Linked DNA regions of Homo sapiens. The protein of the gene in region 1 purifies or fractionates together with the protein of each later gene. This does not show direct contact. Each region holds a gene or a part of one and is shown on either strand. Other genes may lie near its edges. The genes, in order: ENTPD5, CA10, METTL2B and RASAL2.

Evidence for each region.
Region 2: the proteins of ENTPD5 (region 1) and CA10 purify together in Homo sapiens (co-immunoprecipitation; one large-scale study listed by IntAct). This does not show direct contact.
Region 3: the proteins of ENTPD5 (region 1) and METTL2B fractionate together in Homo sapiens (co-fractionation; one large-scale study listed by BioGRID). This does not show direct contact.
Region 4: the proteins of ENTPD5 (region 1) and RASAL2 fractionate together in Homo sapiens (co-fractionation; one large-scale study listed by BioGRID). This does not show direct contact.

The regions. Positions count from the first base shown.
Region 1 is NC_000014.9:74,011,390-74,019,124, forward strand, and holds part of ENTPD5 (nucleoside diphosphate phosphatase ENTPD5 isoform 1 precursor), read right to left. Parts: exon of another isoform or gene 7,085-7,735; intron 4,542-7,084; 5' UTR 4,435-4,541; intron 1-4,434. UniProt on the Homo sapiens protein: Hydrolyzes nucleoside diphosphates with a preference for GDP, IDP and UDP compared to ADP and CDP. In the lumen of the endoplasmic reticulum, hydrolyzes UDP that acts as an end-product feedback inhibitor of the UDP-Glc:glycoprotein glucosyltransferases.
Region 2 is NC_000017.11:51,926,421-51,934,155, forward strand, and holds part of CA10 (carbonic anhydrase-related protein 10 precursor), read right to left. Parts: intron 4,713-7,735; coding exon 4,570-4,712; intron 1-4,569. UniProt on the Homo sapiens protein: Does not have a catalytic activity.
Region 3 is NC_000007.14:128,480,808-128,488,542, reverse strand, and holds part of METTL2B (tRNA N(3)-cytidine methyltransferase METTL2B), read right to left. Parts: intron 443-7,735; coding exon 382-442; intron 1-381. UniProt on the Homo sapiens protein: S-adenosyl-L-methionine-dependent methyltransferase that mediates N(3)-methylcytidine modification of residue 32 of the tRNA anticodon loop of tRNA(Thr)(UGU) and tRNA(Arg)(CCU).
Region 4 is NC_000001.11:178,455,682-178,463,416, reverse strand, and holds part of RASAL2 (ras GTPase-activating protein nGAP), read right to left. Parts: intron 6,718-7,735; coding exon of another isoform or gene 6,697-6,717; coding exon 6,518-6,696; intron 5,735-6,517; coding exon 4,873-5,734; intron 1-4,872. UniProt on the Homo sapiens protein: Inhibitory regulator of the Ras-cyclic AMP pathway.

The DNA.
Region 1 (7,735 bases):
GCTCATTTAAAAAGTCACCAACAGCAAGAGAAGCAAGTCACACTCCCTCTAGAAGCTGGTGTATATGTGTGTGTAAAGGTGGAGAAGGCAATGACCAAGGAGCTAATTCATAAGTAAAGTACACAGACTGGGCGCAGCAACTCACGCCTATAATCCTAGCATTTTGGGAAGTCAAGGCAGGCAGACAGCTTGAGCTCAGGAGTTTGTGACCAACCTGGGCAATGTGGCGAAACTCCATCTCTACAAAATATAAAAAAAATTAGCCAGGTGTGGTGGCATGTGCCTGTAGTCCCAGCTACTTGGGAGGCTGAGACAGGAGGATTGCTTGAATATGGGAAGTCGAGGTTGCAGTGAGCCGAGATGTGAGGTCTTTTTTTGCTGTTAAAATGTCAGCCATATGTTCCACAGTATGATCAATGAGTGGCTACTTACTATTACATGCACGAGTATGTGGTTAAAAGGGACCAAGCAGATGGGGGCTTGGTGGCTCATGCCTATACTCCCAGCACTTTGGGAGGCTGAGGTGAAAGAATCACTTAAGAATTTGAGTTTATATATTATTTTCTATTCCCTCAGGAACAAAAAAGTTAAACTTACCTATGCAACATAAATCTGAAGATTACACATTCAAGACAGGATTTGAATTATGGATTTGACTCACGCAACCCATGTTATAAATTCTAACTATAAGGTCTCCAAAGTAAACATGTATTTTATTTATTTTTATTTTTTTGAGATGGAGTCTCACTCTGTCATCCAGGCTGGAGTGCAATGGCATGATCTCGGCTCACTGCAACCTCCGCCTCCTGGGTTCAAGCAATTCTCCCACCTCAGCCTCCCAAGTAGCTGGGATTACACGTGCCCACCACCATCCCCGGCTAATTTTTTATTTTTAGTAGAGAGGGGGGGGTTTCATTATGTTGGCCAGGCTGGTCTTGAACTCCTGACCTCAAGTGATCCACCAGACTTCGCCTCCTAAAGTGCTGGGATTATAGGCATGAGCCACCGGTCCCAGCTGGGACTCATTCATCTTTGAACACTGATTACTTAACAGAGTACAATCTGGCATATATGTTTAATTAATGTTTGTTAAATAAATTAACAAATACATAAATCTCATCACTCTGCTTCTCAAAATTTTCATTAATGTCCCACTGTCCACAACAGAAGTTACAAACTCAAACACCTACAGGCACCAGGCAGGAAATATAAATGAGTAAAGGTGTGTGTAAGACAAAAGGAACCGGTGGGGATTGCAGTAAACTGGAGAGCATGTGTCCCATCTAAAGGGGCAGCTTCTTGCTATTCCCACCAACTGCTACCATAATGGAATGTAGGCTCCATACTGCCAGGTCTTCTGATTTTTCAAGGTAAGCTGAAAGCACAGATTTCTTTGTAAAATCTGCTGATTTTTAAATGATGACAACTAATTCCATTTAAAAACCCCCAAAAACCTACCATTCAGGCCAAACGAAACACATTCTATGAGCCAAGTCCAGCCCTCAAGTCACAAGCTGGGGCCTCTAGTCTGCAGGATAAAAGACAAACTCCCTGTCTGACATTCTAAGTCATTCACAATGAGTTCCCAGCCTACCTTTTTAGAGTGTTTTGCCTACTTGTTCCATACAATAACCCTCTGCTCTAGTCTAGTGGTTCTGAAACTTTAGCACGCATCAGAACCACCTGGAGGGCATAGACTGCTGGGCCTCATTGCCAGTATTTCTGAATCAGTAGGTCTCAGGTGGGGCCTGTGAAACTGTAGTTCTAATAAGTTACCAGGTGAAGCTGATGTTACCGGTCTGTGGACCACACTTTAGGAACCAATGCTAGAGTTAAACTACTCCCTATTTTAAGCATACTCTGAATTGTGCTCACATTGTTCTAACTTCCCAGAGGAACTTCCCTCTCCTTTCAGTCCATCTCCTTCTATAAACTTTCCCTGACTACGACAGTCTTAAATGCCTCCAAATTCTATAGCACCTAGGGTTTGGGCCAAGCTTAGTCAAAACCCACAGCCCATGGGCCGCATGTAGCCCAGGATGGTTTTGAATGCAGCCCAACACAAATTTGTAAACTTTCTTAAAATATTATGAGATCTTTTTTTGTGATTTTTTTTTAAGCTCATCAGCCATCATTAGTGTTAGTATATTTTATGTGTGACCCAAGACAATTCTTCTTCTTCCAATGTAGCCCAAGGAAGCCAAAAGATTGAACACCCCTGGTCTACACCATCTCTCCTTTATCAATCCCTGCTTGGTACTGTTTACTGTTAAGTGTTTGTGTATGGGTGACAATAAGGTTGTATATTCTCAGAGATCAACATCCAGGTCAGAGCTTTATACATCTGACTGTAAACAATTTGAGGGCAAGGGCCTTCTCTTGTTCCTTACTGTACCCATGAAGTTATCAGACAGGCTGTTATACAGTTGGTATTCATTAAATGTTTCTTAAATGAATGAACATTTGACAGATCCATGACATAAAAATGCAGACAAGTGGGCCTAAAACTTAGGTAATTTTTCATTGCTTTTTTTAAAAAATAGAGACAGGGTCTTGTTATGTTGTCCAGGCCGGTCTCAAAATCCTAGGCTCAAGCAATCCTCCTACCTCGGCCTCCCAAAATGCTAGGATTATAGATGTGAGTCACTGTGCCCAGTCCAGGTAAGTTTTCTTAGAGAACTTTTAGTCTGTGGCTCTGTTGGGATGGACAACTAATAAAAATGGGATATTTTGCAAATAAAGGAACAGTAGTTAATGATTATTTGTAGGCATAGTGGTGCACGCCTGTAGTCCCAACTACTTGGGAAGCTGAAGTAGGAGGATCTCTTGAGCTCAGGAGCTTAAGTTCAGCCTGGACAACATAACAAAACCCCATTTCAAAAATATATGGCCAAGCATAGTGGCTCACAACTATAATTCCAGCACTTTGGGGGCCTGAGGTAGGAGAACCATTTGAGCCCAGTAGCAACAGAGTGAGATCCAGTCTTTACTCCCCCCCCCCACAAAAAAAAGTTAGCTGGGCATGGTGGCACAAGCCTGTGCTCCTAGCTACTCAGGAGACTGACATGGGAGAATTGCTTGACCCCAGAAGGTTAAGGCTGCAGTGAGTCATGATTGCACCACTGCACTCCAGCCTGGGTGACATAGTGAGACCCTGTCATTCATTAACAAATAAATAAACAAATAATTATCTGTGGTAACATATCTTGTATATAAGTAAAACATTGAATGTTTTAAATTTTTAAAAATTTATCTAAAAGTGATAAGATTAAATCCTTGACCGCCAGGATTTCTTAAAATGCCCCTGCAGAGATGTGAACTAGTCTTAATATCACGAGAAAATGTCAATTTAGTAGAATTCTATATTTGCAGCACATGCAATAAAAAAGCAGGATGAAAGTAACTCCTGGCCAGGTGTGGTGGCTCAAGCCTGTAATCTCAGCACTTTGGGAAGCCGAGGCAGGCAGATCACTTGAAGTGAGGAGTTCAAGACCGGCCTGGCCAACATGGGGGTGAAACCCTGTCTCTACTAAAATACAAAAATTAGCCGGGCATGGTGGCAGGCATCTGTAATCCCAGCTACTCGGGAGGCTGAGGCAGGAGAATTGCTTGAACCTGGGAGGCAGAGTTGAAGTGAGACAAGATTGTGCCACTGCACTCCAGCCTGGGCGACAGAGCAAGACTACCTCTCAAAAAAAAAAAAAAAGAAAGTAACTCCCATAAGAAACAGTTTGGATAATAATATATTTATTCAGGATTCTAAAGGCTATGTAGAAACAAAATCTAAAGTTGTTCACTTAGACTGATCCACCTATAAAGTACCATCTGCTATAAGGTGATCTCAAGAATGATTTATGAAGGGAAACATGGCCTCTAAGGTAAACCCGAATAAAGTTATAGATGAATTTATAAAGTAAACCCAGTTTTGGACCTACTAGAAGAAAAAAGCAGAAGTACTACCCACCCCCCGCCCCCCCTTTTTTTTTTGAGAAACAGTCACACCATTGCTCAGGCTGGAATACAGTGGCACGGCTCACTGCAGCCATGATCTCCCTGGGCTCAGGTGATCCTCTGAACTCAGCCTCCTGAGTAGCTGGAACTACAGGTACATGGCCACCACACCCAGCTAATTTTTGTATTTTTTGTAAAGACAGGGTTTTGCCATGTTGTCCAGACTGGTCTTGAACTCCTGGGCTTAAGCAATCCGTCTGCCTTGGCCTCCCAAAGTGTTAGGATTACAGGCATGAACCACCATGACCAGCCAGAAATTCTATCTATTTTGATACATAATAGTTCTAAATTTTATATATGGCTTGTTGGACAAAATTAACATCACTTGGCAAAAAACAGAGAATTAAATTCAGGAAAAAAAGAAAACCACCATTCAGGAACATTTGAAATACATTTATAAATTTAAGCTAGTGGAGATATTACCTTACATCTGGATACAAGTCCTACCTAACAGCACCATAATGATCTTGTCTGTATGAGGATTCAGCCAAGACACTCCACATTTCTTTGTTGACCAGGAACAAGGAAAACTGGACAGAAAAAGAATTACAAAACCAAGTCAACAAAACATGAAGTGGCTTATTCCAAGTTTAAAAGCATTAGTGTTCTAAACAATGAAACAAGGAAAATTTATTTAGTAATAATTCCTGGAACTTCATAGTAAAGGCACCTACCAGTAACTGTGGAAGGAAATGCTACCAGATAAACTACTAAATAGCAACTTCCTACTCTACTATCTGTACTATCAGTTGTTGCTCACCAGCAGATGACAGTAACAACATCCAGTTCTTTGGTAGAAAATGAGGGGATTCAGAAGAATGTAGACTCTATATCCACCTCTACCAGAGTATGAAATCTTGGCATTTCCCTGAGCCATATTCATGTCACAACAGCTTTATCTACAAAATCAAACTTAGTCAATAAAAAATATATATAATACAATAAAATAAACTAGGCCAAGTGTGGCGACTCATGCCTGTAATCCCAGCACTTTGGGAGGCCAAGGCAGGAGGATCACCTGAGCTCAGGAGTTCAAGACCAGCCTAGGCAACATGGCAAAACCCTGTCTCTACAAAAAATACAAAATTAGCCAGGCATGGTGGTGCATGCCTACAGTCCCAGCTATGCCAGAGGCTGAGGTGGGAGGATCACTTAAGTCCAGGAGGTCGAAGCTGTAATGAGCCATGATCCTGCCACTGTACTCCAGCATGGTTAAGAGTAAGACCCTATCTCAAAAAAACCATCAAAAAACCCAAAAACCAATAAAAGAAACTATAAAGTACTATAACTAAGGTACTACGCATACATTAATAATCTTGTTATAGTCAAATTTTTATGTTCATACATTAATCTGTAAGCCTATGTTCAAATGAGGAGTCTTGGACTGACTTTCATATTATAAAGTTACCAATTTCTAGAATAAATTCCAAATATACAGCCTGTGACAGAAGATGCCCTACTCTCTTTTCTGCAGCTTATCAACAGTGTGCTTTTTCAGAACCTTACACATACAAAATTAATGGTAACTTTATAGATTTTACATCAGAGATAAACTCTTCAATATATGGCGATTCCGCCTATGGACTCACGGGAGTGTGAAAGTATACCAGAAATACACTCAGAAAAAGCTATGATCGGCCAGGCGTGGTGGCTCACGCCTGTAATCCCAGTACTTTGGTAGGCCGAGGCGGGCGGATCACCTGAGGTTGGAAGTTCGAGACTAGCCTGACCAAAATGGAGAAACCCCGTGTCTACTAAAATTACAAAAGTAGCCGGGCATGGTGGCGCATGCCTGGATTCCCAGCTACTCGGGAGGCTGAGGCAGGAGAATTGCTTGAACCTGGGAGGTGGAGGCTGCGGTGGGCCGAGATCGTGCTATTGCACTCCAGCCTGGGAAACAAGAGCGAAACTCCATCTCAAAAAAAAAGAAAAGAAAAAGCCATGATCATGCTGGCAGATGGTATGTATAATAAGGTTTACGCCAGCCTGACCAACATGGAGAAACCCTGTCTCTACTAAAAATACAAAATTAGCCAGGGATGGTGGTGTGTGCCTGTAATCCCAGCTACTCGGGAGGCTGAGGCAGGAGAATCGCTTGAACTGGGAGGTGGAGGTTGCGGTGAGCCGAGATCGTGCCATTGCACTCCAGCCTGGGCAACAAGAGCAAAACTCTGTCTCAAAAAAAAAAAAAAAAAATTTTACAGCCGGGGGCGGTGGCTCATGCCTGTAAATCTCAACACTTTGGGAGACCAAGGCGGGTGGATCACCTGAGGCCAGGAGTTCAAGACCAGCCTGGCTAGCATGGTGAAACTCTGTCTCTACCAAAAATACAAAAATTAGCCTGGCATGGTGGCACGCACCTATAGTCTGTTACTGGGGAGGCTGAGGCAGGAGAATTGCTTGAACCCGGGAGGCAGAGGTTGTGGTGAGCCGAGATTGCGCCATTGCACTCCAGCCTAGGCAACAAGAGCAAAACTCTTGTCTCAAAAAAAAGGTTTACAGCCGGGGCGGTGGCCCACGCCTGTAATCTCAACACTTTGGGAGGCCGAGGCAGGTGGATCACCTGAGGCCAGGAGTTCGAGACCAGCCTGGCCAGCATGGTGAAACTCCATCTCTACCAAAAATACAAAAATTAGCCGGGTGTGGTGGCATGCACCTGTAGTCCCACTTACTGGGGAGGCTGAGGCAGGAGAATCGCTTGAACCAAGGAGGTGGAGGTTGCAGGGAGCCGAGATGCCCCACTGCACTCCAGCCTGGGTGACAGAAGACTCTCTCTCAGAAAAAAAAAAAAAAAAGTTTACAAGGCTTATCATTACCAAATCGGCATGTTCCCTCAGAAGAAACAGAAATTCAGAAACAGAAACTATGCAAGTGGGAAACAAGGCGGAGGGGAGTAATTAGAGGTCAAAGACATCGGGAAGGAGTGTACGGATTAAGTCCTCCCTAGAGAAATGGTGACGAAGGATCTACAACCACATTTAAAATAAACTTTTTAATTTGAAATGGAGTATAACAGAGCAGAGCTTCAACCACAAGTCTCCTAACTATTGGCTTGGCACTCAGAATACCGTACCTTCCTTAATGACTCACTGACTGACTCTCATTGAAAAATGAGAATACTTGTGAGTACACTCCTTTTCAGAGGTGTATTCGGGATTTCAGGAGTCGGGGAGGCAAGTTGAAGAGCTTCCAACTTTATGCAACTTTCAGGAAAGAAGGCTGCGGACCGGTATTAGCAAATGGAAATCCGGGGGGCGGTCGTGGGCAGGAAGTATCGGCCACACAGGACCTAGTGAGGCCGAGGACCCTGCTCCCGACCTCGGTGGCAGCACTCCCCTCCCCGCCCGGCTCCCTGGCGTGCCGCTGCTCTTCGGAGGCTGGCAGCCTCGCCCTCAACCACCGCCCTCGGGAAAGTCCTCGACTGCCTATCAAAAAACATTTGGCCTGGGACGTCCGCTGGCTGCACTATCCCTTACAGAATCAGCAAGGGTGAAAAGCCAGGAAAGAGATGCAACCCAAAGGAGTAAGGCAGTGCCGGGAGCGGCAGAAGCGGAGCGGGGGCGAGGGCAAGGTAGCCGCGGCCACGCTGGCTGCGGCATGGAGACACGGGAGGAACGGGACCCGCGGGCGGCACGGGAAAGGGCTGCGGCTCAGACCACTGCGGCGGGACGGGCGGATCAGCGGGGATCTAAGTCTCCTGAGGCAAGGGCGCCCCGACCGCAGC
Region 2 (7,735 bases), on another chromosome or scaffold:
CATCTATTATTTTAGATTCCTTTTGGCACTGCAACAAATTACCCCATAATTAGTGGCTCAAGTGAACTCAAATTTATTATCTTATATTTGGGGAGTTAGAAATCTGAAATCAGTTTTGCTGGGCTAAAATTAAAGTGTCAGTAGGGCTGTATTCCTTCTGGAAGCTCCAAGGAAGAATCTGTTTCTTTGCGCTTTGCAGCTTCCAGAGGCCTCCTTGGCTCATGGCCCTGTGTCACTCCGACCTCTGCTTCCATCCTCACGTCTCTGTTCTGATTCGGACTCTCCTGCTTCTGTCTTTTCCTTTTAAGGACTCTATGGTTACAAGGGGTTTGCCTGGATAGTCCAGGGTAACCTTCCAGTTTTAAAATCCTATATTTAATCATATCTTCAAGATACCTTCTGCTATGTAAAGTGACACATTTAGAAGTCCTGTGGATTAAGATGTGGACATTTTTGGAAGGGGACATTATTCTGTCTACCACATTTATCAACTCCAAATATATTTTCAAATGAAATGGAAAGAGAGGTTAGAACATACGTATTTTTCAGATTACCAAATTAATGCAAGTCTGTTTTAGCAAATCTAGAAACTTTAGAAAAGAAAAAATAAAACAGTATTATCCTTCATCCCAGTCTCTTTTTTAGATCCTACCTTCTATACTTAACATATGATAAGGATTTGTCGTGTCATCAACTACCTTTTATACTTAGATCCTACTTCTTATACTTAACATATGATCCTACCTTTTATACTTAATATATGATAATTATGTTTAGATCCTACCTTTTATACCTAACATATGACAGATCCTACTTTTTATACTTAACATATGATAAGCAATTGTCATGTCCTTAACTACTGAGGTGTCTATTTTATTAAATGAGTTAAAAGATGAGAAAAGATGACGGAACTGAGTTTTGGTTAAAATGATAGAATCGGCAAGTGGGTTTTAGTCTCAGTTTTAATATGTTTTTTCTCCTTTTAGATATTTTAGATCAGCAGATAGGTTTCTATGTGCCATATTTCCTTCCTGAAAGCTAAACTCACGACCTTTCAATACCCACCTATATCAAATCCTCAAAGCAAATATCTATATTCCAAAATAATTGATTGAAGTTATCCATATTTTACTCTGCGGTAACCTTCTCATCCTGTATTTCATTTTCAAATTACCAAGAATCTCACTTATGTGACTATACACTAAAATTAAAACACAAACACACTGCGTACACTCACTTTGGTCTGAGCAAAAAGACATGAAAGGTGAACATTTTTGTGAAATTTTACAAGTTCAATGGCTAACAAGGGTCTCAATCTTTAAAACAGTCAGTGAGGCTTAACTCAGTGTAAAACATCATTTATATCATAATCAAACTTCTTCATATATGGAAACTTTAAGCAACCTGAAACCACAAAGAATTATCTCCCCAACCTCCTCTTTTTGATTAAGTTAATTTAGTAGCTTTAACTAGAATGGATTAATTAGCTCCAAACAATGTAGCAATTGGATGTTAAATTTAACAGGGTCAAAGGGTGGAGATTGGTTCCAAGGTAGGAGTCTTATATCTACATACAACCCAGCCTTAAGGGCGTGCCATTTGTAAAAATACAATTACAGATTTAATATTCATTATGCAAAATGTTTGGGATCATAAGTGCTTCAAATTTTACTAATTTTGGATACTTGCATATATCTAATGAGATTTATTGGGGATGGGATCCAAGTCGAAACAAAAAATTCATGTATGTTTCATATACATTATGTCTTATGTAGATAGCCTGAAGGTAATTATATACAATATTTTAAATAACTTTTTGCATGAAACACAGTTTGAACTGCATTTTGACTGCAACCTGTCACATGAGGCTAAAAGGTGAAATAAATCTCATTTTTAAATAAAAATGAATATTTTCTATTACACTCAAGGCACAGTGCATAGGATGAGAAGGAATAACTATTATTCCTTGCTATTCTTGTACTGAGGTTGAATTTTAGCCTTAAACTATGGTAAGGAAAGCCCTTGTTCCTTCATTTGAGCCCAATGTCAGGTCAAATATGTTAAAATAAACATAGTAACGCAAGTCAGGGGCTTCCAGAGAGCTGCATCACAGTTTTGTGCATAAGATACACTTGAACACCAGAAAGAATAATGCTTGTGGATAAAAATGCGACACAAAACATGTAGTTACTAGGCTGCATTTCACGTACTGACACCCAGCTTGGCTCAGACTTCAAAATGTGACATCTTGCCCAAATTCAACAAAACTTCCCAGTCTTACAGGGTGATTTTCAAATCGATTAAGTTGGGTATTTCTTTAAGGGAAAACAAAAATCAGAGCAGTGATTTGAATTCTCACTTTCAAAACAAGTTTCCAACTCATTAAACATCACCTTCAAAATGTGATACAAACATGATTTACCTATTGCCTAGCAAATTAAGGCATTTCATTACCAATTAGTTTATCACGACCAACTATATTTTATTTTCTACCTTTCACAAATGCAAAAGGAACCATCAGACAGTTCTCAGCTCTTCAAACCACTGACAACAAAAATTGTGCCAGATATAAATATTTACATCATGAAAAGTAAATGTTGCCAAGATTCCAAACTCCAATGCATTTGAAAATTGGTTTGGATCAGGTATACTTTCCTGAATTGGAAAGATACAAAATCATCTGTTCAAAAAATATCTCTAAAACAAAAAAAAACCCAAGTCATAACATGTGAGTGATTTTTAACACTAGACTATCTCCCAATCTCTTCTTTCCCAATAAATTTTAGGGAGAAGCTGTGTTGACATTTTTTTCTTTCACATCAACATTTTTCCTTTAAGACATTCTGATGGAAAGTAAAAATTATATATCCATTGTTTGTGTTAGTTTGACACATTTTCCATCTCAATCCCAATCTGTACTTTATCTAAAACCCCTTCAAATGCTTGCCATAACTCGTAGGCGAAGGATTCAGCTCCCGAACACTGCCTCAGGACCTGCCCTCTGCTGTCCTCTCTAGCCTACCATCTTGCAAGCCTCTCTTCGCTCCCTGTGTTCAGCCTTGCTGGCTACCTTTCAGCTGCATTCTGGAACTCAGGCACCAAACCCCATTCTGTATCTTGGGCTTTTCCACCCCCTGCTTTTCCTTTTGCCTAGAATGCAATTATCCCCTACATCACCCTCTCCAAGAAAGAAAGAATGACTGAATATTTAATCATAACTACAACTTTTCCTTCTTAAATACTGACCAGCGAACTCACACGTGTTCACGACTTTAAATAAATAATTCACCTTTTTAAAGAGAAATGTACTTAGAAGCCATGACAAGCTCCTTGCAGAATTTATAAAAATAAAACTATAAATGGAACAATAATTAGGATAGCATCGTTTTATATGGAATCAGAGCAATAAACTAAATGACCTATATATGACCTTTCCACAAAAATGCTTCTCAAGTCATATTTAAAACAGTACACAAATACTGCATAACTAAATGGTGTCGACCACATGCAATGTCTTTTAAAACCTGCTTTGTGACCTGAGTCAAAGTCACTTACAGCTTTTTGATGAGTCATTAGGGGTGTGTGTATCTGTGACAGTTACATGGTACAAGAAAATATATTTCAATACATCAGAAGGGGAAAAAGTTAACTTACAAACTTCATGGTATTTATGGTGAACAGACTGCACAAAGGAAGAGAGAACAGAGCCCAATGACCCAAACCCTGAAGAATCAGCCGCTGGTATTATCAAAAGTTGTCAATAATTTTAACCTCAATTTTTTGCACACAAATTATTTTCCATTTCTCTTAACAATAGCTAAATTACCTTTGAACACAATTTTCTGCATGTGCATTTTTTTTTTACCTTTAACAACCTACTCAACAGTAAAAGATAGCCAAGTAGACATGAACCAGCAAGAGAAGTGCTAAGATTCCAGTGATGAGAAGACCCAATGGGCACTTGTGCCCTTCCACAAATTAAAGAGGAGCTCGTTATGGGGGGAGGAGAGTGAAGGAGGGATTTAGGTGTGAGAATCACAAAGCCCAGCTCAGCATTTCTGTGCAGGAGCTAGGATTCTTAGCAAGCAAGATGCCCCTAGGAAGATTAATTATTGATTTTCTTATAAATCATCTAAGGTGATTTTTGTCTGTTTTTTTCCTCCCAAGATGATGAACGTCTGATTTTATTTTTGTTAATTGGTTTTCTCACTTCACTGAGGTTAAAAGAAGGCCTAGTAAAGCAGTTTCTTAGAGGAAAGATTTTCCCAGCATGATAGGCAGGGGTGGCCACTATGCTTTCTGTCCTTTATGGGGGTACCAAGGTTGTCTGATAAGACTTCAGGCAACCTCCAGGAGGTACAGAGTAATCAGAAGCACAAAAGTTTGACTAGTTAGGGAGAAAAAGCACAATTTAGACATATTTCTATCTAATGGCGGCAGGTCTGAAGTCTGTGGTATTCCTAGGTGGGAGGACAAACTCATCACAGAGACTGAAGCCTTGAGGATTAGCTTTCAGAATCAAGATGGCCCCATCTTCAACTTTACCATGGAAGCAATATGGTGGCTTACCTTCCTGCCCCCCGTGTTGATGCGAAGAGGTGTCAGAAAGGGGTCGAAGATCATGTGACTGGTCTCTATGTTGACTGGCGACTGCCGTTTCCCCACAGAGCAAAGATTCCAAGCTGAGTTCACCAATCCCCAGAAAGAAGGAACTAGAAACAAAAAGAAATTATAGAATTAGGCTGAGTAGCAGGTTGGGGAAACAACATAAATAAACAGAGCTATGTACAAACGTGGTAAAATGGAAGAGAACCACCAAATGTTCCCACCCATGGAGATCCTTGGGGGTTGCTATGGTATTTTCCTGGTCTGAATCTTGGTCCACTTCTCTAAGTCTTACCTGCATGGTCTCTTGTCATCAGATTTTCTTGTTTGAGGCCCACTCATCCTGCAGTTTCTTTGTTGACTGCAGTCATCATTAACACTTTAATGCTAACATCATTGTTCAGGTCTCATCATCTTTGCAATATGCCTGGGGTAGCACAAATATTTAGCAATTCCCTGGAGTTGATGCTGTGCTTTTCCTATCTGGCAAGAACGATGTGAAAATCAACCTTATCCTATTTGGAAGTTTTTCAAGGAAAGTGTCATTCAGTGTACACAAAGTTTTTCTTTGGGTTGTCAAGACTAAACTGAGGGAGTGACTTATTTTATGAGCCCCCTAATCAATGCCAGACAAGAGCTTAGCAACTTGACTTCATCTTTGTTTAGTTCAACACTGTGTCATTAACCTAATGTACTTGTAGATAAAGAATTGGTGTTCATTTGATAGGCAGAAAAATGACATTAAGAGCTGAGCACAAATACCCAAAGGAAACCGTCCACTCATTTTCAGTGTCACATGAAAACTTCTATTAGAATGTATTTCTGTGGCAATTTCCAGTTCGATTTCTCTCTATTTAAGAAAGTTTTCAGGGCAAGGGTGGGGAGCCAACCTACTAATTTTATATCAGTGAAGATCAAAACTATACTTTCAGCCTTTCCCTGCCCCTTTCAGTACTTCCATCGAGTCTCTGGATCCATGTGTCCTTCAGATTCCCCTGAGATTATATGGCCATTCATTCATCCACCCATAGTACATGCAGTGAACTCCTATTTGGCATCACGCACTGGGTTAGGCTGAATCTCGAGGAAGGCAGGTAAGCACAAGAACAACTAACACACTGGGGAGGCTCACTAGTGTGAGGTCGAGTATGTTATGAGACTCCGGATGAGGGGAAGCCAATCCTGCCATGGTAGAGGGGAGGCAGGGAGTGACTCCTGGAGAAGATGAGCCTAACAATCACATTAGCCTTCTTAAATGGACCTGTCCTCTCAGAAACTCAAGTTTAATTAAACTTAAATTGAATAAAGGCTTTAACTTACAGTAGCCATCATTCTTGCCTATAGCATAGATGGAGAAAACTAAGGCAAAAGAGGAGTTTGGAGACACTTGCCAAAGATACTCAAATTCTTTGACTCTCTTATTTGTTATAGGCAACTGTAACAGACATGGGAGGAGAACTAAAAATAAGTTCCTTGGCCTAGACAAACACTTCAACATCAAAATAAGATGGGTCTCATTTTAAAATATGACAAATATCTAATTTGGTTTCATCCATGCCAATAAGCCTCTGGTAGACCATTTCCTTTAGTTTAAGGAGTTTGAATTGGCTTTTTAGTCATTAATGACTTTCAAAATGGTAGCAATGGCCTGAGTTACAGAGGGAGAAAGAGGAGGAGGAGGAAGAGGAGAAACATTGACACATGTGCATGGGCTTCCTCGGCCCTCTCATTTCTTATCATTTCTTAAAATATGTTATCACTACAAGTTACTCCACCTTTAGAAGGTACCACGTCCTAGCAAGACTACAATATTTAAGAAAGTTCTTGCATTATGAATGCACTTATATTATAAATATAAACTTGTCTTTTCTAAACTACTTTTTTTTAAAAAAAACACTGACTTGATCTTATATTTATTTATCCCTCAATCATCTCAAATTATGAAAATAAAGCCTTCATTAGGGCATCCTCCTAGCAGTCTTTGTCCGTAACGCACACACAAGTGGCAAATGTGAGCATGCCAGGGATATAGTCATGGCACCTCCACAAGTGAACTGAGTGGCCCTTGGTAAGTCATGTGTCCCTTGGACCTTCTTCATGGTTCCTGTGGTAGGCCGAATGGCTCTCCACCAATGATGTTTACTATCCTAATCCTCAGAACATGTGAATATGCTATCTTAGATGGTAAAGGGTATTTTGCAGATGTAATTAAGTTAATCGTTTTGGGATGGAGAGATTATCTAGGATTATCTGGGTGGGCCCAATGTAATCACAGAAGTCTTTATAAGAGAAATGTAGGAGGGTCAGAGATATAAAGATATACAGATGGAAACAGAGGTCAGCCAGGAGAGAAGATAATACTCTGCTGGCTTTGAAGATGGAGGAAGGGGACATGAACCAAGGAATGCAGGTGGCCTCTAGAAGCTGGAAGAGGCAAGACAATGGATTCTCCACCTAGAGCTTCCTGCTGTAAGGAATATAGGCCTGCTGATACCATGATGTTTAACCCCTTGAGAATATATTTGACCTCCAGAAACGTAGGATAATAAATTTCTGCTGTTTTAAGCCATGCAGTTGTGATCATTTGTTATGGCAGTAACGGAAAAGTAATACAGCACCCCTTTACCTTTAAAACTCTGTGAGACAATAACCTCTTTGACAATGAAGACATCTATGATGCTTGCAGGGCTCTCCCTAGAAGGCAGCTGCATGATTAAAGTAGTTACAGCTGGTGCACATTGCATTTCATCTACTCCCATGAAAAGCATTAACAAAAATAATTCCAAGCCCATAAATGGATTATAAGACTGCTATTATGTGGCAACATGGGTGGGCAGCTGCTGCTGTACTTCACTAATAAACGTCATGCCCAAAAAGTACCCCCGCAAAAACACAAACAGGAAAAACTTTATGCGAACATCTGCCTTCTCTTTTATTGGGCATGGAATTCTTTATGACGAACAGTTTCGGGGTTTTATATCCCCACTTCACGATCAAAGCCTGCGTCTCTGATGCTAATCACCTGCTCAGCCAATCGAGGAAGAAGTGAGAAACCTCTCTCCTGCTCAGCTGTGTCCCTCATTGGCTCCAGCCCTGAACTGCTATCTAAGTTTATTTACCCCTGGATGGC
Region 3 (7,735 bases), on another chromosome or scaffold:
TGGAACCCCAAACCAAGTACAACAGTAACGTCACACACTATAACATACATAATAGTAAAAAAGTCTGAAATATTCTGAGAATCACCAAAGCATGACACACAGACACTAAGTGAGCATATGGTGGTGGAGAAACGGCACTGGTAGGCTTGCTTGATGCAGGGTTGCCACAGACTTTCAATATATGAACAGATATGACATCTGTACAGTGTGATAAAGTGAACTGCAATAAAACAAGGTATGCTCGTTATCAGTAAATCTTTTACTTTTAGACCGTAAGAACACAGACCGTATAAGAACACAGCCAGAGACCTTGATTTTTAGGAGAACCTTTTCCCTTTAATCAGTGGAAATTACCAATAGGTAATTTCCCATCGTACTCACCTGGACCAGTTCTATAGCTGTGGAAGAAAAATCACAGCAATAAACAAAGAGTCCTGGGTCACTGAAATGGGCAGAAAAGACAAAACAATGAGACTACAAATCGAGCTATGTCTACTCTCATTCTTGTGTAGCACAGTTAAAATATCAAATGGGAAAAACTATCATTCATTCAAATAAACTGTATCTATTAGTCACAACATATTTCATTTTGGTTAAAATCCTTTTTGAATTATATCCTTTTGGAGGCTCTGTGGACATAGCTAATATGAAGTTTATAAAACAACCAGGGAGTTTCAAATCAATGTCTTCTCTTTTTCCACCTACAGAAATCCTACTTTTCCCTCAAATGAAGCCTTGCTTGATAGCACCACAAGAATTCTTTTTTCTTCGCTGAGCCACCTTGGCACTTTCTCCACACCAGGAACACATCTGTACCTGTCTGTTGGCCCCCACCACATAGTGAGTGAGTGCTTTCACAGCGGCGATTACATCTTTCGCTTATTAGTTCACCAAACACTACTGAGAGCCCACTATGCATTGTGTATTATCTTAGATGCTGAGGAGATAAAGATGAACACCACAAAATCCCTGTGCTTATTTTTCTTGGTATCCTCACTATCTAGCACAAGTCTCAGCACAAGGTAGCAACACAAAAAATGTTGATTTTAAAACCATCAAAATTGCTTCCAATTATGAAGCACATTATATATTTATTCTGAAGGCATCAAAATACAAAACAATTTGTAATGCCAGAATTCTTTTTGTTAGTACAGGTCTAAATAAAAATGGGAGAGGAGGAAGGCTGTATGCTTGCGTTTTAGAAACAACAGCCCAGAGCTCTTCTGCACTGTTGGGCTCATAATTTGAGTGAGACGCTGGGATTTTTGGGAGTATGCAATACCTCCAGCCTCTCAAAGGCATGGGCTCTGCTTCCTGCTGAACTGTTGACCTTTGGAGCAGACAACTTCTGGGAGGTATAATCAAGACTAAAAACCCGGGGAACTGCAGCATTTGCTATGGTAATCACTAGCTACCTGTGGCTACTTAAATTAAAAATTCAGTTTCTCAGTCCCATTAGATACGTTTCACACGTGGCTAGTGCCCACCATAAGGGAGAGTGAAGATGCAGAACATTTCCATCACTGCACAAAGTTCTATTCCACAGCACTGCTCCGAAAGCAGGGTCCATGCCTGTCCTGTTCTCGAATCAGCCAGGCAGCTGCATCTGCCGAGTACCCATTAAGGTCACGGGCTAAGTTCTATCAGACTCAGCTTCTGCTTTCTAAAAGACTCATTGCAGTCTTTGCCTCCTGGGTTCAAGTGATCCTCCTACCTCAGCCCCTCAAGTAGCTCGGATTACAGGTGCGCACCACCACACCCAGCTAATTTTTGTATTTTTAGTAGAGACGGGGTTTCACCATGTTGGCCAGGCTAGTCTCAAACTCCTGACCTCAGGTGATCCACCTGCCTCGGCCTCCCCAGGTGCTGGAATTTCAGGGGTGAGCCACCGCGCCTGGCAAGCGTTGTTTTCTTCTTCATGTTTTTCTTTTTTTTTTTGTGAGACACGAGGTCTTGGCTGTGTCACCCAGGCTGGAGTACAGTGGGACAATCTCAGCTCACTGCAGCCTCTGCCTCCCAGGTTGAAGTGATTCTCCCACCTCAGCCTCCTGAGTAGCTGGGACTACAGGTGCCCACCACCATGCCTTGTTAATTTTTGTATTTTTAGGAGAGACAGGGTTTCACCATGTTGACTAGGTTGGTCTTGAACTCCTGACCTTAAGTAATCTGCCCACCTTGGCTTCCCAAAGTGTTCAGATTACAGGCATGAGCCACTGTGCCTGGCCTCTTTGTGCTTTTCTTTTTTTTTTGAGACGGAGTTTTGCTTTTGTCACCCAGGCTGGAGTGCAATAGCGTGGTCTTGGCTCACTGCAACCTCCACTCCTGGGTCCAAGCCATTTTCCTGCCTTAGCTTCCTGAGTAGCTGGGATTACAGGCACCCACCACCACGCCTGGTTAATTTTTGTATTTTTAGTAAAGATGGGGTTTCGCCATGTTGGCCAGGCTGGGCTCGAACTCCTGACCTCAGGTGATCTACCCACCTTGGCCTCTCAAACTGCTGGGATTACAAGAGTGAGCCACCACGCCCGGCCTGTGCTTTTCTTTAAGTTTTCTACAGGTCATATAGTTGTCCCTTGGTATCCAGCTCAAGTCTCTTACACAATGGTGTCGGGTGTAGCATTTGCATACAACCCACACACATCCTCCTGCATACATTAAATCATCTATAACGCCTAATATAAATGCTATGTAAACAGTTATAGTTTTAAAAATTGTTGTTTTATTGATTTTTGAGACAGGGTCTTGCTCTGTCACCTGGAGTACAGTGGTGTGATCATGGCTCACTGCAGCCCCAACCAATCCTCTGGCCTCAGCCTCCAAAGTAGCTGAGACTACACGTGCATGCCAGCATGCTTGGCAATTTTTTTTTTTTTTTTTGAGACGGAGTCTCACTCTGTCGCCCAGGCTGGAGTGCAGTGGTGCGATCTCCGCTCACTGCAAGCTCCGCCTCCTGGGTTCATGCCATTCTCCTGCCTCAGCCTCCCGAGTAGCTGGGACTACAGGTGCCTGCCACCACGACTGGCTAATTTTTTTTTGTATTTTGAGTGGAGACGGGGTTTCACTGTGTTAGCCAGGATGGTCTCCATCTCCTGACCTTGTGATCTGCCCGTCTCGGCCTCCCAAAGTGCTGGGATTACAGGCGTGAGCCGCAGCACCAGGCGGCTAATTTTTTTGTAGAGACGGGGTCTCACTATGTTGTTCAGGCTCGTCTTGAACTCCTGGGCTCAGGTGATCCTATCTCCTTGGCCTTCCAAAGTGCTGGGATTATAGGCATGGGCCACTGCGCCTGGCCTATACTATTTATTTTCAATCCATGGTTGCTTGAATCCTCGGATGCAGAAAAGGTGAATATGAAGGGCTAAGAGTATTATTTTTAAAATCAGAGTCCTTAATTGGGCTCTGAGGATAGAACTGTATTTCAAAATAATTGATTTTCTCTATTTTACTTCATATACTTAAAATTAGCCCAAGATAAATCTATATAGAGATTTGTGCATTTGTAGAGTAGTGGTTGCTTAGGGCTAGAGATTGGGGGAAATTGGGAAATGGGGAGTGACTGCTAATGGGTATAGGGATTCTTTTTGGGGTGATGAAAATGTCCTGAAGTTGACTGCAGTGATGGCTGCACAACTCTGTGAATTAACTTAAAACCACTGTATTACAGCCGGGTGCGGTGGCTCACGCCTGTAATCCCAGCACTTTGGCAGGCCGAGGCAGGCAGATCACGAGGTCAGGAGTTCGAGACCAGCCTGGCCAACACAGTGAATCCTAAAAATACAAAAATTAGCTGGGTGTGGTGGCGGGCGCTTGTAATCCCAGCTACTCAGGAGGCTGAGGCAGGAGAATCGCTTGAAACTGGGAGGCAGAGGTTGCAGTGAGCCAAGATCGTGCCACTGCACTCCAGCCCGGGCGACAGGGCAAGATGCCACCTCAAAACCAAACCAAAACAAAACAAAAAACCAACCAAACAAAAAAACCACTGTATTACACACTTTATATCTCAATAAAGCTGTTATATATAAAAAGAAAACAAATGAAAAATACATTAGCCTGAGAAATGATCCTAAGGCTTTATCAGATACATTAAAAAAATATTAAGAACCCTGGCCTGGGCAACATGGCAAAACCCCATTTCTACAAAAAAGACAAAAATTAGCAGGGGTGGTGGCACACGCCTGTTGTCCCAGCTACTTGGGAGGCTGAGGTGGGAGGATCACCTGAACCCTGGAAGGTTGAAGCTACAGTGAGCTGTGATGGCACCACTGCATTCCAGCTTGGGTGACAGAAATCCTGTCTCAAAAAAAAAAAAAAAAAAAAAAAAAAAAGGATCTAGGCAATAGGGTAACTCAAGAAACATAAAAAGGCTGTAAAGACTGCAGAGTGGGCTGGGCATGGTGGCTCATGCCTGTAATCCCAGCACTTTGGGAGGCCGAGGTGGGTGGATCACCTGAGGTCAGGAGTTCGAGACCCGCCTGGCCAACATGGTGAAAGCTCATCTCTACTAAAAAGTACAGAAATTAGCCGGGTACAGTGGCACACACCTGTAATCCCAGCACTTTGGGAGGCTGAGGCGGGTGGATCACCTGAAGTCAGGAGTTCGAGACCAGCCTGACCAACATGGAGAAACCCCGTCTCTACTAAAAACATAAAATTAGCTGGGTATGGTGGCGCATGCCTGTAATCCCAGCTACTTGGGAGGCTGAGGCAGGAGAATCACTTGATCCCAGGAGGCAGAGGTTGCGGTGAGCCAAGATCGCACCACTGCACTCCAGCCTGGGCAACAAGAGCAAAACTCCGTCTCAATCAACCAATCAATCAATCAATAATACAAAAATTAGCTGGGCGTGGTGGTGGGCACCTGTAATCCCAACTACTCGGGAGGCTGAGGCAGGATAATTGCTTGAACCTGGGAGGCGGAGGTTGCGGCTAGCCGAGATCGAATCACTGCACTCCAGCCTGGGTGACAGAGTGAGACTGTCTCGAAAAAGACTGCAGAGTGAGGCAGCTGGACGATAACAACTAGGGAAGTTTTCTAGATGCTTCTGATCTGAATGTGAGGAAGGAAGGAAATAGAGTAGTAGAAACAAAGGACATTTTGGAAAGGTACGGAGTCAGGGGAAGACATGCAAGGTGTGACCAGTGCACTGAGGGATAAGAGGACATACTTTATAGGGCACACTCTTGTAGAGGACTTTGAAAACTATGCCCAACAATTTAAACCTGATTCACAGGCAGTAGAAAACATGCCAATTCTAAGCCAGTGAATTACATGAACAAGTGGGTTCTAGTAAGATACTGAACACAGCGATCTTATTTAAATGGCATAAAGAGGCTGTGGCAAAGATGCCATCTACATTCAGTTTTACATTCATTGATGATATTGATGATTAATGGCCATAACTTGAAGCTAAGTCAATCTCCCATTTGAGGTGGGTTCCTCAGACTGTAACTTCAAGAGTAGAACAATCTCTTTTCTTCAGTGTTAGTACTAGGACTTGCCATTTTCTTAGAAATTTCTGAGAACAAATTGTAGAAATATTTAAATGTATATTAGTAATGAGGCTAATGTTTTACTTAATCCTGTTAATGAATACTGTGGGCTAAATTGGCAAAGTATATATTATATGAAACCTTTGAGAAACAGTGGATTCCAGTAATGAATACAGAACTGGAATGTCATTTCCACAAGGGGTTTAAAAACAGCTATAGGGCCAGGAGCCATGGCTCACGCCTGTAATCCCAGCACTTTGGGAGGCTGAGGTGGGTGGATCACTTGAGGTCAGGAGTTCGAGACCAGCCTAGCCGACACGGCGAAACCCCATCTCTACTAAAAATACAAAAATTAGCTGGGCATTGTGGCGCATGCCTGTAATCCCGGGTATTTGGGAGGCTGAGGCAGGAGAATCGCTTGAACCCAGGAGGCAGAGGTTGCAGTGAGCCAAGATTACGCCACTGCACTCCAGCCTGGGCAACAGAGCAAGACTCCGTCTCAAACAAAACAAAACAGGTATGGTATAATAAATATATTTGGTGTTGGTCTTTGTGGTTCCAGGCACAGAGTTCCAAAAACCTTAAGAATTTCCTCAGCAGGCTGGGCGCGGCGGCTCACACATATAATCCCAGCACTTTGGGAGGCCGAGGCAGGTAGATCACCTGAGGTCAGGAGTCTGAGACCAGCCTGGCCAATGTGGTGAAACCCTGTCTCTACTAAAAATATAAAAATTAGTTGTGTGTGGTGGCATGCACCCTTAATCCCAGCTACTAGGGAGGCTGAGGCAGGTGAATCACTTGAACCCGGAAGGCGGAGGTTGCAATGAGTCGAGATTGTGCCACTGTACTCCAACCTGGGAGATGAAGCAAGACTCTGTATCTTTTGTTATTCATGATGAACTCCCTCAGGACCACACTGAATTTATGTTAATGAGATGACCTGGGGTGGGGCCAACACTAGTAAGGGCAAACTGATTGGAACTTTCAGCTTCACCCACCAATGTCCTGAATAGAAATGCAGATTATGTTGTATGAAAACTATTTTCTTCTTCTCCTTTTAAAATTAATTTTCCCATAAGTCTGTGTCCTAGCTGTATAAAAACTCTTGAGGCTGGGAACGGTGACTTATGCATGTAATTCCAGCACTTTGGGAGGCCGAGGCAAGAGGATCACTTGAGCCAGGAGTTTGAGACCAGTCTGGGAAACAAAGTGAGACCCTGTCTCTACAAAAAATAAACAAAAATTAGCTGGGTATGGTGGCATGTGTCTGTAGTCCCAGCTACTTGGGAGGCTGAGGTGAGACGATTGCTTGAGCCTAGGAGTTTGAGCCTGCAGTGTGCTATGGGCACACCACTGTGCTCTAGTCGGGATGACAGAACAAGAGCTTGTCTCAAAACTAAAAAAAAACCCTTGATGAGCTTCCAGGTTGGTGAACACATCCGTGTGCTAGGAGAACACTGCACTGAGCTCCTCAGGGTCAAAGCTCCTGAGCGTGAGATCCTCTGAACCCCACTCTAATTACTTCTTCAGCTGGCTGTTAATCTGTATCCTTCATAACAAACACATAAATGTAAGTAAAGTGTTTCCCTGAGTTCTGTGAGCCATTCTAGGAAATTATTGAACTGGAGACAGGGCTCCCCTGATTTACAGCCTGTAGGGCAGAAACACGGAGGGCCAGATTCACAACTGGCATCTGAAGTGGGGGGCAGTCTTCTGGGACCGAACCCTTAACTTGTGGGATCTGATACCAACTCCAAGTAGACAGTGTCAGAATTGAATTGTAGGACACCCAGCTGTTGTTGAATTGGTCAGTGTTGGCAAAAACCCTGCACATTTGGTGTCAGAAGCGTTCTGCTTAAGTACACAAAACCAGTGTGTTTTCATCAGAACAGGAGACATCTTCATGTATGATAGCTTTCTCAACTCTACCATGGGGGTAATGACAACTCAGCCACTGACTGTTCTTCAGAGATCATGAGAATGGAAAAGTTGAACACATTTGTTCCTTAGAAGAAGAAGAAGGCACTAAACGTTAACACTAGCAAGTTTTAAGTCTAATTTTCCAAATGATAAAGATAATCAAATTAAAACAATCCATAAATGAACAATGTAGAAATCTGAATCTGACATAATCCATATTTTCCAATAACCATTATTGATAGTTTGATGCAGCAAGTTTTGAAAAAATCTTTACTTTTTTTTCTTGCTACATTGCCCTGGCTGGTCTCACACTCCTGGCCTCAAG
Region 4 (7,735 bases), on another chromosome or scaffold:
ACAGAGAGGTTAGGTGTCAGTCATTACAATATTTATGTTTCAAAAACTAGCATTAGATATTACAATTTATATTAGGCTATTGAACATTAGTGCTTTCTCCACAAACAATGATGGAAACACACAATTTTTTTCCCCTCTGTCCTGCCTCAGAGAGAGAGAGTAAGCTAAAGAGAGAGTACAAAACTTGGCATGTGAGTTAGCCTTTTATAATTAAATAGAGGGATTTGTATTTTAAGGACCAGAATTCCATAATTTCATAATTGAAGGGCATTTTCTCCCCTATCACAGCCATTACATCTTAAGGATCTTTATACCATTCTGAAATAGAACTCAGTTAAACTCTAAATAAATATTTTAAAAGAAGGGGTATTTTGATGAACTGGAGAGTGAGGAAGACCAGATTAAAAAACTGATTGCAGAGACTAAAAGGCTATCAGAGATGGGTTGGGAGAGACTTTAAAACTTACACATGCAAAAGTAACATAGGGACATTTCTTAAAGGTGTGAAGAAAGATCTGGTTTAGTCGATTTACAGATTATAGTTATATATCAATAAAAATAGCTTCATGCCTGAGGATGGATGTGCATAGTTTATATAAATAGACCCGTACACACTAAGCAATTGTGAATGAACTTCTAGAAATTTCTACTATTTTGTTGGTCAAATCTTATTTTCAGCCACTTCCTAATATATCCTAGCACTTTGCTTGGCATACAGTAGGTGGTCAAAATAATAAAAATAAAAGTGACAAAATAGATCAATCCTAACTATTCCTTCTATTAATGATAAAGCCTTCACAAAATTGTAAAAAGGCTAGAAATATAGAATAAATAAAAAATAGTTATTGTGCTAGATTGAAAGGAAACAGAGGTGATTTTTGTTTCATGAATTTTTTTGTTGTAGTATGTTCTTCAAATGAAAAAACTATATACTATCTTTTATATATTCTTGGTCTTATAAGCGTTGCTCTTATTTTCCAATTAGTCAATCTAATGGGCATCATATCATACAGTTCTTTTAAATGATACTGACTAGTTAAATACACAACAGATGCTCAATAAAATATTATTCATTTATTATTCTGGATTATCTTTAGAATTCATTACTAAAATATAATTTATTACTTAGAGAATATTCTATGTTTTTCCCCTAATCCTTTGGAAGGGCACCAAAGGCTTCTTTTCAATGATTGTTCCATCTCCTTATAAGCTGGATAAATAGCAAAAAATATCTCTAGTTTATAGTCCAAAAAATTGAGGGAGGAGGTTAGTAAGTGGTTCAGATTCCATCTTGCTTAGGAATGGCCTTAGAAAGAGAATTTATATCCACTGACTTTCAACATGATCATCAAAGATAATGAAAAAGACAAAAAGAAAAAGGAGCAGGAATTCCCATTAGGAATATCTTCCCTTTGAGATAAAGCTGTATAGGGTTTCCCTGGAAAAACAGTAACGCTTTAGGGCAAAAGAGCCTGATGCAGCAGTTTCACTGATACTACAATTAATCATAGCCTGGCTATGCTGAGGCCAGTTCCTCGTTCCTTGCTAGTATTTACTAGACATAAACAAGACCAATTGGTTTCAGCTTCATAGTGTGAAATAGTCGGATTCCCATAAATGAATAACCCTTCTGCTATCAACACCAAAGAAAGGGCCGAATAAATTAATCCACAAACTTTGGGAGTTCTTGAAGAGGTTGGTTAAGAGACAGTTCAACAAATCTAAATGTGAAAACTGCAGCATCATATTAACAGGCTTGTCAATTATCTATTTTAAAAGGTCTCTTCAAATTCAAATTTCTAAGATTAGAGTACATGATAAATCTGAACAACTCATATATATAAAGTCTACTGTTTGTACGAAGTAGATGATACATGAAAAACAAAATAGAGAGGAAAATAAGAAAAAAGCAATACAAACAGAGGCTGAAATGGGTTAAAAAATTAAGAGAGTTTCTTGAAAAAAAATTTATCTGTGAATTTTTTCACCAGGATTTTATTTCCTTCCTACTCATTAGACGTAGAAGACTGAAGCCAGTTACTCTGCAGACAATGGCCACTACTTTGTGCTAAGATATAAATGGAATTTGCATGGGACAAAGCTACTGATAATTACAGCCGCCTACAGAACAATCCCCACAAAGAAATCCTCTAGTTTCTGGGAGAGAATTCCCCAACACAATTTGCAATTAAAATATGTAAAGGAATTTGCCTTAAAAATGTGCTGATTATATAGAACTTCAGAGGCTTCATGGGAGTGAGATGAACAAAGCAAGCAAGAAACAGATAAGAAATAAAAAACTAGGCCAGGCACGGTGGCTCACTCCTGTAATCAAAGCACTTTGGGAGGCCGAGGCAGGTGGATCACTTGAGGTCAGGAGTTCAAGACCAACCTGGCCAACATGATGAAACCCCACCTCTACTAAAAATACAAAAATTAGCCAGGCGTGGTGGTGGGCATCTGTAATCCCAGCTACTCAGGAGGCTGAGACAGGAGAACTGCTTGAACCTGGGAGGCGGAAGTTACAGTGAGCCGAGATCGTGCCACTGCACTCCAGCCTAGGCGACAGAGCAAGACTCTGTTTCAAAAAAATAAAAATAAAAATAAAAAACTAACAATGTAAGTTCAAAACAATGAACCAAAAGCCAGTGTAGGAAAAAAAAAAGAAACTTGAGCAATCAAAATACGGTGATTTATGCTTCAACTGATAGGACAGTGGCAGTACCAGCAAAAGTATAAACAAAGATTAATATTCAAAGCTGTACCTGGACATCTCACTGTGCCTGTACCCCACTTCATGCCAAAAAATATATTTGGTGACTCATTAATGGCTGTGACACAAAAACTAATTTTTATATTGGTTGTTTGGAGACTGTATGCATTTCCTACCTCCCATCCATCCAGGCAGCCCTCTAATCATAACCCACAGAAACATGTATTATGTGCTTATGCGATAGGTATTGTATTTTCCTAAAGAAAAAATGTTATAAATGACAACTGGTTCCAGATGAGCACAAAAAAGGCTATTTAATTTATAATATTAATAAACAACCAGCCTGAGTCATAGGCCCTCCATGATACAGAAGGAAAGGGTAAGCAAAAGAAAAAAAAAAGAATCTTTATTTTCCTTTTCTGTACAGGGCTGGGCCTAAGTACACTTTTGAAAAGCAGGTGGAGGACACTTTCCCTGTCCTGTCCCTCTCTGCCAGATCTCATGCTCTTCGCTAATCCTATTTTATCTTCAGTGCCCTTGTGCTGCCCTAAGTCCCTGAGTAGATATTTGCTTCTACACAGTATTCTGATTTCTAAAATTATGTATTTTTTCCTTTCTCCTCCCAATAAACATCTTAATTCTCTGAAAGTAGTTGATCGCAACTAGAATCTAGCACAAAAGTGATGTGAGGAAACTACTTCACAATAAGGTAGGAATGACTGATAGCCTTCTAACACATACATTTTATGCTTATATACACATACACATTTATATATAAAAAATACATATGATACATATAAAAGATATCTATTTTTCCTTTTCTTCAAATAAAAATGCTTACTAAATCAAATGATTTGGTAAAATTTTGGGAAATATAACAAAATAAAAATGAAAAATTTAAGACTGTAGAAAAACTTTATTACTCAGTAAAAAATGACCAACTAGGAGGTTTAGCCCAGGAAGTCTGCTTCCAGAAACAGCTTAAGTTAGTCATGCTTTTCATCCCTTCTTCTATTTCTGTATCCAAGGATTCTATAAATAATCCAATTAAAAAATCAAAGTAGGTGCAAGGGGCTCTGATCATAGCAGACTGGAGGCAGAGGCAGCCATATAGGTAAGTGCCTAAACTGTAAAAATGCAAATATATAACAGATACAAACTAGGATTTTATTGCAGTCTCCCTGCCCAGTTATTTTGCTGCATAAAAGGATTTGTCATAGAACTCTTTTAATCTCAAGTTTTTTAGTACTATCATTAGGTTTCAAAAAAAATTCAACTAATACAATGCTTTTTTAGGAGAAAAATCTTTTTAGATGAAAGATATATAAAGATATATATTATATACATGAAAAATTATATGAATGTGTATATTATATATTTAACAGTAGTTTGTTTCAAAGGGAAAAATATGTATTGATGCTTCAAAATGTAATATTTAAGGAAGAAATGATTAGTTTCTTGGCAAAGCTTTTTATTTGTCAATAAAAAAATTAGAAAAACTTATATTAAGATTGGATGTGATGTTAGCTGGGCTTGTCCATGTAAATAGAAATGTAAGGGATTTGCAGATGTTTAGAATACTTCCTTTTCCACCTGTGCTTCTATCTTTTTACTCTCTCCTTTACCTTGACTCTACAGGTGTTCAAGTGTTTATTTTTCTAGCTATTTCCAGGAAAAGCCACATGGGACTTTGTATTTCCAGAAGGAGTTGAGGGATGGAATGGAGAGCAGTCATATTAAACTCTTGGCTCGGAATGCAAACCTTTATTCTGGAAGCTTAAGAAAAAAAATTAAGAAGGATTAATTTTCAGATTTCCAAAATAATAGCTGGTTTTGCCTACAGATTTTAAGTATCTAATTATTCATTCAACATCATAGATTTGCTCTAAGTGCAAACTGAGGTAGCAGCTCTGCTGCTTGAAGAGAAGGAAGGGGGCCTCTGCGTGTTTGTTAGACTCTTAAGGGTAATGAGTCAAACTACATTCTGTAGTCACACCTGGGCAGAAGCCTCCCAAATTTTTCCTTTCCTCTTTCCATTTAAAGGTTGCTTTTAAGAGGAAATCTTGTTAACAATAGGATTTCCCAATGATTTATGTATAAAGAACCAAGGAAACAGATGGACCAAGTAGAAGCCAGGCCCCTTCAGCACTCACACCTACCTGCTGTGTCTGTTGTCTCTGGATTGCTCTAACTTTGGGAACAGGGCTCTCTCTGGAGGAAGAGGACTGCTGCCGGGACCGGCTCCCATTCTGCACAGGTTCGGCCACCAGGGCTGCGGACACCACTGACATGCTCCCGGTGCTACGTAAAGAAGCACTGTGTGGCAGGGATGGTGGGGCTTTGGCTCGGGCACCTAACCCACCCTGGTCCACTTTTCGGATCTGGGCCTGCCCAGTACTATTTTGTCGTGGCAAAGCAAGAGGTATGTGTCTATCTGGCACCGTGTGCCGCCTGGAGAAGTCCTCACTCTGAGTGCTACGTTTAGTGAAATCTTCCATGCTGCTATTGCTGGGTCCACTGAGCTTGAAGTCTTCACTGTTACTTTGGCTTCTGGAACTGGCAGTGCTTAGGTTCTCCAAACTGGAATCTATAGAGGCCTTTGGCATTGCTGGAATTGGGTTATTGAGGTGATAGACAGGGTTCTGGAACGACAAGGGCTGAAGGCCACCTGGCTGGTTCAAGGCTGGGTGCAGGGGCCTTCTCACTTGGGGTGCACTTTGGGGAGTGCTCTGGGTTTCCCGCAGCTGTTTGATGCTGGCCACCTGGGTTATGGAAAGCTGGCTTCCGGTCAAGCGTATAGGCACATCAAGCATGACAGATGCATGCTCCACTTGAGCAGCATGAGTGTCCTGGAGGTCCATGAGGGAGACGCTCCGACCATTAGGAAGGCTACTTTCCCTTTCATCCTTTTCAGAATAAGTCATGCTCTGAGAGGAGGCTTGCTGAACCAGCAATAATGTTTTCCCTCTGAAGTAGCTGTCTGTGTTGTCCTGGCTTGGAGATTTTAGTTTATGCAAATCACTGTGGAAAAGGAAAGGACACTTAATTTCTCTTGAGACAACTTCAACATGGCTAAGATGCCTCAATTCAGGCATATGAACTCCTCCGAAGGTTCTTATGTGGATACGTACATTTCTTTGGAAACTCAGATTTTATCTAATTAGGGAATTATTACAATGCTTAGAATAAAATCCAGCATTTTTACTTTTTCCCCAAAGGTACAGAATAACACTGTAGATACCAACCCATCACTGTCTTCAGTTTTAACCAGGATTCCAATAATTTCCTAGTTAGGTTTTAAACCTTCCCCAAATATTCCAATTCATACTTACTTGTCTAAACCTTCAAGAGAAGAAGTTCTAAGCACACAACTGAAAGGTCCCTGCAAAAGGCACAAGTCTTGCCAATCCCTAAAACAGTCTAAGCATCGACATTGTATCTACCTGTCCAGTTGACATAGCCAGCTATAAAATGGTTTTAACCGAGGTTCTCCAAGATTTTGAATGCTATAACGTACAGAAACATGAATTTCATAAAGCCTTTAGTCTTCCACTAAGCAAGACAGAAATTTTAAAAATATGCTTGTGGAATATATTGTAACTCTCTATACTACCATTCTAGAAAATAAGTCATCCCAGATCTTGTGCATTATTATGACAAATAATTGGACTGCTCTCAGGTCAGATGAGTCTTCAGTTGCTCATGATTTTAAACTTGTAAATTCAACAAATAGGTTGAATATACTTCTGCTAAATCTAAACATTATGTTTCTCCGAGATAGTGGTCAAATTCTCTCTTTCATACCTGTCAGTGGGGTCTTCAAATATTTTCTGCAGCCCAGAGGAGAGGCTTCCACTGACATTTGGACTGGAGTTATGTTCAGTGAAGCGTCTCAGTTGCTGTTGTATTGGCGTAGGATTAGTCAATGACTTGGTAATATCAGCAAGAACACGAGGGAGAGGCCCCAATTTTGCCACGGTCGCCTGTAGGAAGGAATTTTCACCCTAATTGGATAATAAGCATTGCGACATCCACCACAGATTGTTTTTGGCACAACGATGGCCATTGATGGAGGGGTGTAGGTTGGAGGGAAGGGTAAGTGTTTGCATATGGGAGTGGCAGGTTCATAATGCATTGTTATGGAGCAGCAGAACCATGGCGTCGAGATGAATGGAGGAGGCGAAACAAGGTGCGGCAGACATCGAGGAAAGAAAGGAAATCGAAATCAGGATTATGCAAGTAAAAATTAAAAGACATGCTCAAAACTACCAAACTAATGCCATTCCAACTAAAATAGGCATGCGAAGCAAACTAAATCTTTGGGAGGCTAGTAGATCAAGGTGGGGGAGGGTGGAGGCAGAACCAAATTCCTTCTAACCAAAAGAACTTCAAGATCAGAGGATCAACTAGTATGATAAACTTTCAAAGAAAAGGGATCATGTGAGAAAAGAAATGCATGCCAACATATAAGAAGGTGCTCATTCAGGAATCCAGAGTACTGCAGGGCACACAGATGATACTGCCATCCACTATCCCAGTCAATCTTGGGAACCCTGACCCACTGCCAACTGAGTTTCCATCAGTAAGACAATTTTTATTGTTAATTTAACAGCAAAATCAGGTAAACTTCCTCTATGAGATATGTCTAGATGTATTCCTGGTTCCCAGGACCAAACACAGATTAAAAAGGAGAAAGTGTGTTTACATAGCAAAGCCCGTTAAAAAGACTTTGATCCTGAATAAACCAGGCCCATTTCACAGGAAAACTGAATCTGCATTCCACTGAGATGCAGTTATTCAACAAAGACGAACTCTTTAATACTTGCTTTATCCATTTCAATCATTTTTTTATTTAGGGAATTCTTATTCTCATGGGGTCTTAGGGGTCCCCTTCAACTGTCAGTCAGTTTGGCATAGCTGCCTTTGGGTCTTTGCCTTCTCAACAATCAACAGACTCTTCTACCCTACTCAAACAGGGATAGATGCCACCAAGGCCTTTACTTGCTCAATAATGTTGGGCTA